2 separate regions of the Homo sapiens genome follow, and region 1 is linked to region 2. The links come from fine-mapping of genetic effects on gene expression. A gene starts in region 2. The other region holds a variant in brackets. All regions are shown on one strand. Distances are between the middles of the regions. Region 1 has its middle 35 kb from the start of CAPN1. Region 2 holds the start of DPF2 (double PHD fingers 2).

Evidence for each region. PIP is the estimated chance that this variant, and not a neighbour inherited with it, causes the effect. A credible set is the group of variants that fine-mapping cannot tell apart.
Region 1: its variant is the best candidate, but not a certain one, in a credible set for the expression of DPF2 in whole blood (INTERVAL, PIP 0.67).

What each region holds. Positions count from the first base shown.
Region 1 is chr11:65,214,524-65,219,682 of GRCh38, forward strand. It overlaps the pseudogene SLC22A20P. Among named protein-coding and RNA genes, the nearest start is that of CAPN1, 35 kb to the left of the region's middle. RefSeq lists enhancers at 1-161, 2,189-2,752, 2,753-3,316. The variant T/C (reference allele first, on the strand shown) is at 2,791.
Region 2 is chr11:65,330,815-65,335,973 of GRCh38, forward strand. It overlaps DPF2 (double PHD fingers 2), which reads left to right and starts at 3,038. Exons shown (of 11, transcript NM_006268.5): 1 at 3,038-3,104. The coding sequence starts at 3,073. RefSeq lists an enhancer at 3,290-3,339 and a silencer at 3,390-3,479.

The DNA.
Region 1 (5,159 bases), 120 kb before region 2:
ATTTTAAACAGATAATACATATAGTACATTCACATGGTTTCAAATCCCGAAAGGCACAGAAGAGTCTGCCGGGGATCACCCCTTTCCTGCTCTGCCCCTCCTTGCAGTAATCCCCAGAGGGCAGCCTGCTTTCTATGCCTTTTACCAGAGACATTTTATGATTCTATGCAGTCAAGCAAGTGGGTGTATATGTTCCATTCCCCCATTTTTCTTTTCCTGTTTTGTATTTGTTTTCTTCTTCATGTGCCCCCATTTTTTTCTTTGAGATGAGGTCTCACTATGTTGGCCAGGCTGGTCTCAAACTTCTACGGTCAAGCAGTTCTCCTGCCTCTGTCTCCCAAGTAGCTGAGGTGACAGGCCTGGTCATCCTTTTTTTGTGCAAATGCTGGCATACACCCCACGTGGTCCTGCACCCGGCTTTTTCTTCGCTTTGGAGGCCTCTCCTATTCCTTCAGAAAGAGCTGTCCCATTCCTCCTAGTCTTTACACTACATCCCACTGTATGAATGGGCCCTAACTTGTTCCCCGTTATTTTTTAGAGGTGAGGTCTCACTCTGTCACCCAGGCTGTAGGGCAGTGGTACAAACATAGCTCTCTGCAGCTTCAACCTTCTGAGCTCAAGTGATCCTCCTGCTTCAGCCTCCCCAGTAGCTGGGACTACAGGCACGCACCACCGCACCCAGCTAATAAAAAAAAAATTATTTTTAGTAGAGATCGGGGGGTGGGGGTGGGGGGGGGTGTCTCACTATGTTGCCCAGGCTGGTCTCGAACTCCTGGGCTCAAGCAATCCTCCTCCCTCTACCTCCTAAAGTGCTGGGATTACAGGTGTGAGCACTGCACCTAACTGACCCCTATTGACAGACGATGTGCAGCCAGCTCATGGCTCTGAAGTTGGCTCCTACGTCTCTCTCTCTGCACCTCTTTCCCCTTCCTCCTCTTCGCTCTCTCTCCCCTCTCCCTTCTCCTCTGCCCTTCTTCTCTCAGTTCAGGTTTGGGGGGCCCTCCCGGACTCCACCCCACACTCTGGAGTGTAGATGGCTCCCTGTGCCACACACCTCAGGCCCTCATCACACCGTGTCATGATACACCCTGGTCTTTCTACATGTGAGCTTGTGTCTTATCCAGAATGTCTTGTTTGTCACCAACCCTCAACTCAGGCCTGTCACTTAGAGGTGATTAATGATCAATGAACATTGTGTCACAATGAATGAGTGAATGAAAGAATGCATGAAGAAATGAAGAAACGAGTGAGTGAGTGAGTGAGCAGGCGAGTGAGTGGGCGAGCGAGTGAGTGGGCAGATGAGTGAGTGAGTGGACTAGTGAGTGAGTGAGTGAGCCGGTGACTGAGCGAGTGAGCGGGTGAGTGACTGAGTGAGCGGGTGGGCGAGCGAGTGAGCGGGTGGGCGAGCGAGTGAGCGGGTGAGCAAGCGAGTGGGTGGATAAGCGGGTGAGTGGGCGAGTGAGCGGGTGAGCGAGTGAGTGGGCGGATGAGTGAGTGGGTGAGTGAGTGGGAGAGTGAGTGGGTGGATGAGTGAGTGGGCGAGTGAGTGGGTGGGTGAGTGAGTGGGTGGGTGGGTGAGTGGGCGGATGAGTGAGTGGGCGAGTGAGTGAGTGGATGAGTGAGTGGGTGGGTGATGAGTGGGTGATCGAGCGAGTGAGCGAGTGAGTGGATGAGTGAGTGGGTGGGTGAGTGAGTGGGTGAGCGAGCGGGTGAGCGAGTGAGTCAGTGAGTGAGTGGATGAGTGAGTGAGTGGGTGGGTGAATGGATAAGTGAGTGGGTGGGTGGGTGGGTGAGTGGATGAGTGAGTGAGTGAGTGGGTGCGTGAGTGGGTGAGCGAGCGAGTGAGCAAGTGAGTCAGTGAGTGAGTGGATGAGTGGGTGGGTGGGTGAGTGGGTGGGTGGGTGAGTGGGTGGGTGAATGAGTGGGTGGGTGGGTGGGTGAGTGAGTGGGTGAGTGGGTGGGTGGCTCGGTGGGTGAGTGAGTGAGTGCATGAGTGAGCGAGTGAGTCGGTGAGTGAGTGAGTGAGTGGGTGGGTGAATGAGTGAGTAGGTGGGTGGGTGAGTGGGTGGGTGAGTGAGTGCGTGGGTGGGTGAGTGAGTGCGTGGGTGGGTGAGTGAGTGGGTGGGTGAGTGGGTGAGTGAGCGAGTGAGCGAGTGAGTCGGTGAGTGAGTGGATGAGTGAGTGGGTGGGTGAGTGGATGGGTGAGTGGGTGGGTGGGTGAGTGAGTGGGTGGGTGGGTGGGTGAGTGAGTGGGTGAGTGGGTGGGTGAGTGAGTGGGTGGGTGGGTGAGTGAGTGGGTGGGTGAGTGGGTGGGTGAGTGAGTGGGTGGGTGGGTAAGTGAGTGGGTGGGTTGGTGGGTGGGCGAGTGAGTGAGTGGGTGGGTGAGTGAGTGGGCGAGCAAGCGAGTGGGTCATGGAGTGTGTGGAGAAGAAAAGCTGCCTGTCTTCTTGGCCTGCTTCCCTGCTGGCCAAGTTGAGGCTGTGCGCTCTGGCCCTGGACCCTCATTTGCAAACAGGGCAGATCACCCTGCCATCCTGTCCTTGGGCCCCTCTGTGGCATGGCAACCCTCTGGTCCACATAATGACTCCACCCTGGCTCCTGCTCCCACACCAGGGACTGGCCAAGGGCTCACCCGCTGTGAGTTCTGGTTCGAGGCCTCCCTCCAGCCACAGCAGTGCTCAGGTGACCTCTCCCCACCTGCCACACGCCCCTCTGGGGCTTTGCAGAATCCCTGCCTTTCCTCGAGCCCGGACTAAATCTCCTCGCCAGCTTCCTTCTACACTATGTCCC[T/C]CTGTCTGTGACCAACCTCTGCCACGAAGCCTGGGTCCCAGCAGTTTCAAGTTTCTGTTTTGGAAGGGTGGCTTTCGCGGGGTACCCCATCTTCCCCGGGACTGCCTTGATAATCCCCTGCTCGGGTGAAAGGGGCAGGCGTGGGCTGCCCATTTGTTCCTTGGGGGATGCTGCTGCTGCCTCCCAAAACCCTAATGCCTGTGCCCATTCTCTGGACTCAGGCTGGGCTGCAAGGGCCCCCTGGTCTGGTCCTACCTGCAGCTGGCAGCTTCGGGGGCCGCCACAGCGTATTTCAGCTCCTTCAGTGCCTATTGCGTCTTCCGGTTCCTGATGGGCATGACCTTCTCTGGCATCATCCTCAACTCCGTCTCCCTGGTGAGTCCAGCCGAGGAGAGGCCAGGAAGGGCGGGGGCTCCTGAAAGAGCAGGGCGGGGGCGGGGGGACAGGGGGGTGGCAACGTCGAGGGTCATCGGACATTTTTCTCATGTTGTTTTGTTGGGATTCTCATCCAGCAACCTCAACTCAAAGCCTCCCGCCAGAGTTCTGGACCTGGGGGACCTGGGCTCCCGGGTAGTGGTGGCCCTGCTGGCTGTGGGTGGGGAGTCCCTGGATGGCCTTTCCCAGGTCTGGGCTTTAGTGTACTCATCTGTAAATTGAGAGGGTTAGGTTTATTTTATTTGTGAATTAGCCAACAATAACCACTTACTAAGCACCTATTGTCTCCAGGCTTAGTGTGGGGACACAGAGGCCACTGGGACACAGGAGAGGAGTGAGCCATGATGGTCCCCAGGGCAGCAGCCAGCCCTGAAATTGTATGACTCTATGAAGGCTGGTGATTCCTCAGCTTCATGGTGGAGACCTGGCTCCTGGATGCCAGCTTGGAGTGTTGCGCCCCCAAGTGATAAGTGGCAGGCTCAGTCCTCACTCTAGGCTGGTTCTGGGCAGCCCCTGGGTGGTCCTAGGAGAAAGCATCACGGGGCAGAAGGAAGCCCACCCAGGACACAGGCCTGCCACCTACCTATGTTTCATTTTAACTACTTAGCTTGCTCCTGGGGACACCACTGGGCACGGAAACTGCTGCCACCATCAGCTGTGCAAAGACAGGATGGATCTTTTATATCAGGGGTCAGGAAGAAATCTTGGGACCAGAGAACCAGGACACCTGACCTCCCCTCCCTCTCCCAGCACACAGCGGGATCTCAGCCAATCCCAGCCTACACAGCTCACTCTGCAGGGTGGGCATCCAGCCATGGCTTGAAACAGGTGTCTGAGGTCCACCTCGTGCTGGAATGGGCTCTAACACCTACACAGACACATACAGACACACACAGACACATACAGACACACATACACACGCATCAGAGACTGCCCAGCCTCTTAACACTTCCTGAGGCTGGAGAGGCCGGGCACTGTCTGGGGACATCTCCGCCTGTAAAGACGACTTTGTAGAGATTCCATCGAGTGCCCTGGAGCTCCCACCACAGGCCATGCCCTGCCTCGGGTCCCACCGCACAAGTGTGGTGACCCTCCATACATATATGCCTCCCCTCATGTTTGTTCCTGCGCACACTGTTCTGTATCTTGATTCTTTCACTTAACCAAGCTGTCACTGGTCCACTGCCTGATAGAGAGCCTCCTAGTGCCAGGAGAGGCTCTAGAGGTTGCGGTGAACACAGCCCTGCTCCTTGGAGTCCATGTTCTAGCGAGGCGAGATATCACCAGCATGCATAACGAATCGTATAGTATGTTCGAAGACAGTAAGTGCTACAGAGGAAAACCGAAGCCTGGAAAGGGGATAAGAATGGCCGGGTTGGCCAGGCGCAGTGACTCATGCCTGTAATCCCAGCACTTTGGGAGGCCAAGGCGGGCAGATCGCCTGAGGTCAGGAGTTTGAGACCAGCCTGGCCAACATGGTGAAACCCTGTCTCTACTACAAATACAATTAGCCCGAGCATGGTGGCGGGCGCCTGTAATCCCAGCTACTCGGGAGGCTGAGGCAAGAGAATTGCTTGACCCGGGAGGTGGAGGTTGCTGTGAGCCGAGATCGCACCACTGCACTCCAGCCTGGGTGATGGAGTGAGATTCTGCCTCAACAAAACAAACAAACAAAAAATCCCACAAAGAATGGCCAGGTTGGAGGGGAGGGGTCTGCAGTTTTAATTAGCGTGGTTTGGGAAAGACTCACTGAAAAGGGGTCATTTTGAGCAAAACTGGAAGGAGTTGAGGGAATGAGCCCTGCAGGTTTCTGGGGTAGAACATTCCAGGCAGAGGGAACTGCCAGGCAGAGGCCCTGCAGGGGAAAGTGTGCCCAGGGTGAAGAGCAAGGAGGGCCCTGTGGCTGAAGCAGAGTTGGGAGGTGGGCGACAGGT
Region 2 (5,159 bases):
AAAATCAAAAATTAGCTGGGCATGGTGGCGTGTGCCTATAGTCCCAGAGAGGCTGAGGTGGGAGGATTGCTTGAGTCAGGGATGTAGAGGTTGCAGTGAGCCAAGATTGTGCCACTGAGATTTTTTTTTTTTTTTTTTGAGACACTGTCTTTTTTTTTTTGAGACGGAGTTTTGCTCTATTGTCCAGGCTGGAGTGCAACGGCACAATCTCAGCTCACCACAACCTCCGCCTCCTGGGTTCAAGCAATGCTTCTGCCTCAGCCTCCCAAGTAGCTGAGATTACAGGCGCACACCACCACGCCCAGCTAATTTTTTTGTATTTTTAGTAGAGACGGGGTTTCACCATGTTGGTCAGGCTGGTCTCGAACTCCTGACCTCATGATCCACCCGCCTCGGCCTACCAAAGTGCTAGGATTACAGGCATGAGCCACCATGCCTGGCTGACGCTGTCTTAAAAAAAAAAAAAAAAAGATTAGTCAGGGTGTAGTGGTGTGCCTGTAGTCTCAGCTACTCGAGAAGCTGAGGTGGGAGAATTACTTAAGCCTGGGAGGTCGAAGCTGCAATGAGCCATGATTACACGACTGCACTCAGCCTGGATGACAAAGTAAGACCCTGTCTTAAAAAAAAAAAAAATCTCAAAAATGTAATACTGTAGACAAAGCATTGTGGGGGCTGAAAAAAAAAAGGAAAAAATTAATATTGAACAAAAGAAGCCAAATTCAAAATAGGACATATTGTATGATTCCATTGACATACAGTTACACAGACACACTAATCTTTAGGGCTAGAAGCATGAGATGGCTACTGAGGTGCTAGTGATGTCTTTTTCTTCATCTGGGTAGTGGTTACACAGGTTTGTCTATTTTGTAAAGATCAATCAAGCTACAATTATTTTGCATGGTATACCTGCATCAAACCATCTCGTGTACCCATAAATATATACACCTACGATGTACCCACAAAAATTAAAAAATTGAAAAAAATTAGTCAAGCTATGAACCCGGAAGGCGGAGGTTGCAGTGAGCCGAGATCACGCCATTGCACTCCAGCCTGGGCAACAAGAGGGAAACTCCGTCTCAAAAAAAAAAAAAAAAAAATTAGTCAAGCTACATAAGATCTATGTGCTTCTCTTTATGTATATTTCAATTAAAAGTTTGAATTTAAAAATAGTACTAATAATAAATAGGCTAGCTGCATATAATTGGAAAGGCAGCTTATGAACCCAGCATCAATAGCTTTCAGTTCTTTTAGGATTGTTTAAGAAAAGGTTACATCAGCTGGCCAGGCGTGGTAGCTCATGCCTGTAATCCCAGCACTTGAAAGCCTAGGCGGGCGGAACACATGAGGTCAGGAGTTCGAGACCAACCTGGCCAACGTGGTAAAACTCTGTCTCTACAAAAAATACAAAAATTAGCTGGGGGCACCTGTAATCCCAGCTACTCGGAAAGCTGAGGCAGGAGAATCACTTGAACCCAGGAGGTGGAGGTTGCAGTGAGCTGAGATAGTGCCACTGCACTCTAGCCTGGGCTGGAAGGAAGAATTTGTTAAGGAGCGACAAGAGCAAAACTCCGTCTCAAAATAAATAAATAAATAAATATAAACAAATAATGTTGTTACGAACATTCTTGTACAGCTTTATTTTTTTTTTTTTGAGACGGAGTCTCGCTCTGTCACCCAGGCTGGAGTGCAGTGGCGCGATCTTGGCTCACTGCAAACTCCGCCTCCCAGGTTCACGCCATTCTCCCACCTCAGCCTCTCCAGTAGCTGGGATTACAGGCGTCCGCCACCATGCCCGGCTAATTTTGTTTTTGTATTTTTAGTAGAGATGGGGTTTCACCATGTTAGCCAGGACGGTCTCGATCTCCTGACCTCGTGATCCGCCCACCGTGGCCTCCCAAAGTGCTGGTATTACAAGCGTGAACCAATGCTCCTGGCCTGTTTTTTTTTGTTTTTTTTTTTTAAGAGACAGGATCTTGCTATGTTGCCCAGGCTGGTCTTGAACCCCTGGGCTCAAGTGATTCTCCCACCTCACCCTCTCAAGTAGCTGGGATTACAGGCATGAGGCATTGCACTCAGCTTCTTGTACAGCTTTCTTGTGTGTATATCCAGGAGTGGACTTTGCTGGGTCATAGGGTATGTGTATTTTCAGCTTTAGTGATTATATTTATATATATATATATATATATACATATGTATATATATACATATGTATATATATGTGTATATATATATATGTATATATGTGTATATATATATGTGTATATATATATGTATATATATTTTTTTTCCTTTTTTTTTTTTTTTTTCTTGAGATGGAGCCTCGCTCTGTTGCCCAGGCTGGAGTGCAGTGATGTGGCTCCAGTGGCTCACTGGAGCCTCAAACTCCTGGGCTCAAGTGATCCTCCCACCTCAGCCTCCCTAGTAGCTGGGATTACAGGCATGCACCACCATGCCCAGCTAATCTTTTTTCTTTTTCTTTTTTTCCTTTATTTATTTATTTATTTATTGAGAAGGAGTCTCGCTCTGTCGCCCAGGCTGGAGTGCAGTGGCGCGATCTCGGCTCACTGCAAACTCCGCCTCCCGGGTTCACGCCATTCTCCTGCCTCAGCCTCCCGAGTAGCTGGGACTACAGGCGCTCGCCACCACACCCGGCTAATTTTTTGTATTTTTAGTAGAGACGGGGTTTCACCGTGTTAGCCAGGATGGTCTCCATGTCCTGACCTCGTGATCCGCCCGCCTCGGCCTCCCAAAGTGCTGGGATTACAGGCGTGAGCCACCGCGCCCGGCCCCGGCTCCTGCTCCTCTAAATATTAGAGGCAAGCCTCGAACCGGAGCTCCGGGATGCATGCCAATCTCCGGTTGCGCCTGCGCGTCGGGCTCCCGTGGGGTCCACGCATTTCCTACCCGGCCCCCGCGAACAGGCGTAAAGCTCTTTCTTCAGTGCTCGCTCTAGTGCGCGCGCCCGGACGGCGCCTGCGCAGAGGGCAAGGAACCTGGTACCCCGGTGCGGTCCCGGCGCCTGCGCGCTGCGGACTGTGGGGCTTCTCGGCCCGAGGCAGAGGAACAGGGAAGATGGCGGCTGTGGTGGAGAATGTAGTGAAGCTGTGAGTGGTCGTTTCTTTCTCTCCTAGGGCGGCAGGTTTTGTAAAGGGCCTGGGAGTAGGGGGCGGTGGGGGAAGGGACTAGGCGGAGAGAGGGACATCCCCGGGAAAGCCATGTTGCGACTCCTGGTGGGGAGGGCAACAGGAGACTCCGGAGAAGACGTTGCGCTTCTTTGGAAACTTGTGGAGGCCCTGGTGGGGGCACACTGGAGCCCCGACGGGCGGCATCCCTGCGGGGCTGTGTGGCCTCAGCGTTCCTCGGGGCTGACGGTTTCCAGAGCATGGCGCCCTGCCTGCACGCGAGACTCACCGTCCCGGTCCTCTCCCGAGACGCCTCAGTCCGGAGGAGCGGGGCCGAGGCCCGGGCGGCCCTACGGCTGGCCCGCCGCCCACCCCGCCCCGTCCCGTCCCGTTCGCTGCAGCAACAGGCTCGGCGGCCCCTGCGGAGTGCACTGCGGGGCTGGCTGTTTCAGTTCCAGGCAGCCCCGTGATGTTTGGGAGGATCTTGGGTGGCAGGTACCTAAGACTACAAATATTCTTGGGAAGAATTTATCGAGGAGCGGATCCAGAAGGGAAGGAACTTCAGGGGAGTGGGCCTTGGCCCCGTCCAGTAGCAGCCATCAAAAACCTGCAACTGGACCGAAGCCGTTCAGGACAGCTTAGCCTAAAGGGGCATCTAGGTGGGCATTCTTCCTATTATACGATACCATTGTGCTGGTCAGATTTCAAGCAAAGTTAAAGTTAATAGCTGTTGGGGCCATGGACGCTGGCCTATGAACTGCTTCCTGTGAGTTAAAGATGCTTTGGGACTTGATTTATTCCTACAGAAGAATCAGAATGAGTTTTAGATTGGGTTAATGCATGGTGGGCGAATAGAGCTTCTTTTAATGGGTATGTTGGGCTTGGTGCAAGGGTGGGAAAATTGAGTGGTGTCTAGCTGTCCAGTCAGGGTTTTTGCATTTTGACTGGATGACGAGGTAAAGGTTCGGTAACTCTTCTAAGGGACTCACAGCTTCTCATCTGTCTTTGTCGTGGCCTGAGCCCCACTCTTCCTAAGAGCCTTTTTAAAGAGTAAGTTGCTTCTCCCTCCTGCCTGAAGCCTTTTCTTTGAGAATGCTTTCCCACTTCCATTAAGCTAAGTGCCTTTCCTCCTCTTGTGGTTTGTTTTTTTTTTTTTTAAGTTGCTTTCTGCTCTATCCTGCTGTCTCTTTCAGCCACCCCTCCTCCCAACGCTATTGTCTTTCTCTCTGATCTGCCCACTCCAGTTTCCCCAGCTCTTTCTTCAGGCTGACATTTTTCTCAATTTAGAAATGACACTGTTGATCTACCATTTATCCAGTTATCCTTCCTGACTCAGATGTTCTTTCTTTGTTTCCCTGCGTCTTTGTTGACTTCCCTCATCCCATTGTAAGGGGATGTTTTACACAGGTTTCTCCAAAAATAAAAAGGAAGATTCTCATTGTACTGGGGGAGTATCAGACTTGCCTAGGTTTTGGGAGTTAAACGTAGTGAGGTTCTTCGTGTTGGAAGATTTTCCTCAGAGAAATAGGGTTGCCAGTGCTTTCAAGTTGTGTCATAAGTGAGGGGTTGCCCATTTAAACAGAGCGTGACATCTTGTTTCTCTTTGAAAAACTGTAGAGATTGTGAGCATCACCAGCCACTAATTCCTGAATGCCAGTAATGAGAAACCAACTCTCTCCTCCTCATTTCTAGCTGCACAGGGCCTCAGATCACAATTAATACGTACTCCCACAGAATTATCCCTTTAAGAAGGGGCTTCTATTCTTCCAGTTCATTTGGAGATATGGCACTTCTCTTGATTATAGTGTGCCTAGTCTTCTGACAGCTGATGTTATACATTGAGTACATTGAGGTCAGGACCACTAGCTCATCTTTTCTTTTTTTTTATTTTTTTAGACAGAGTCTCACTGTTGTCGGCCCGGGCTGGAATGCAGTGGCACGATCTTGGCTCACTGCAACCTCCGCCTCCCGGGTTCCAGCAATTCTCCTGCTTCAGCCTCCCGGGTAGCTGAGATTACAGGTGCCCACCACCACACC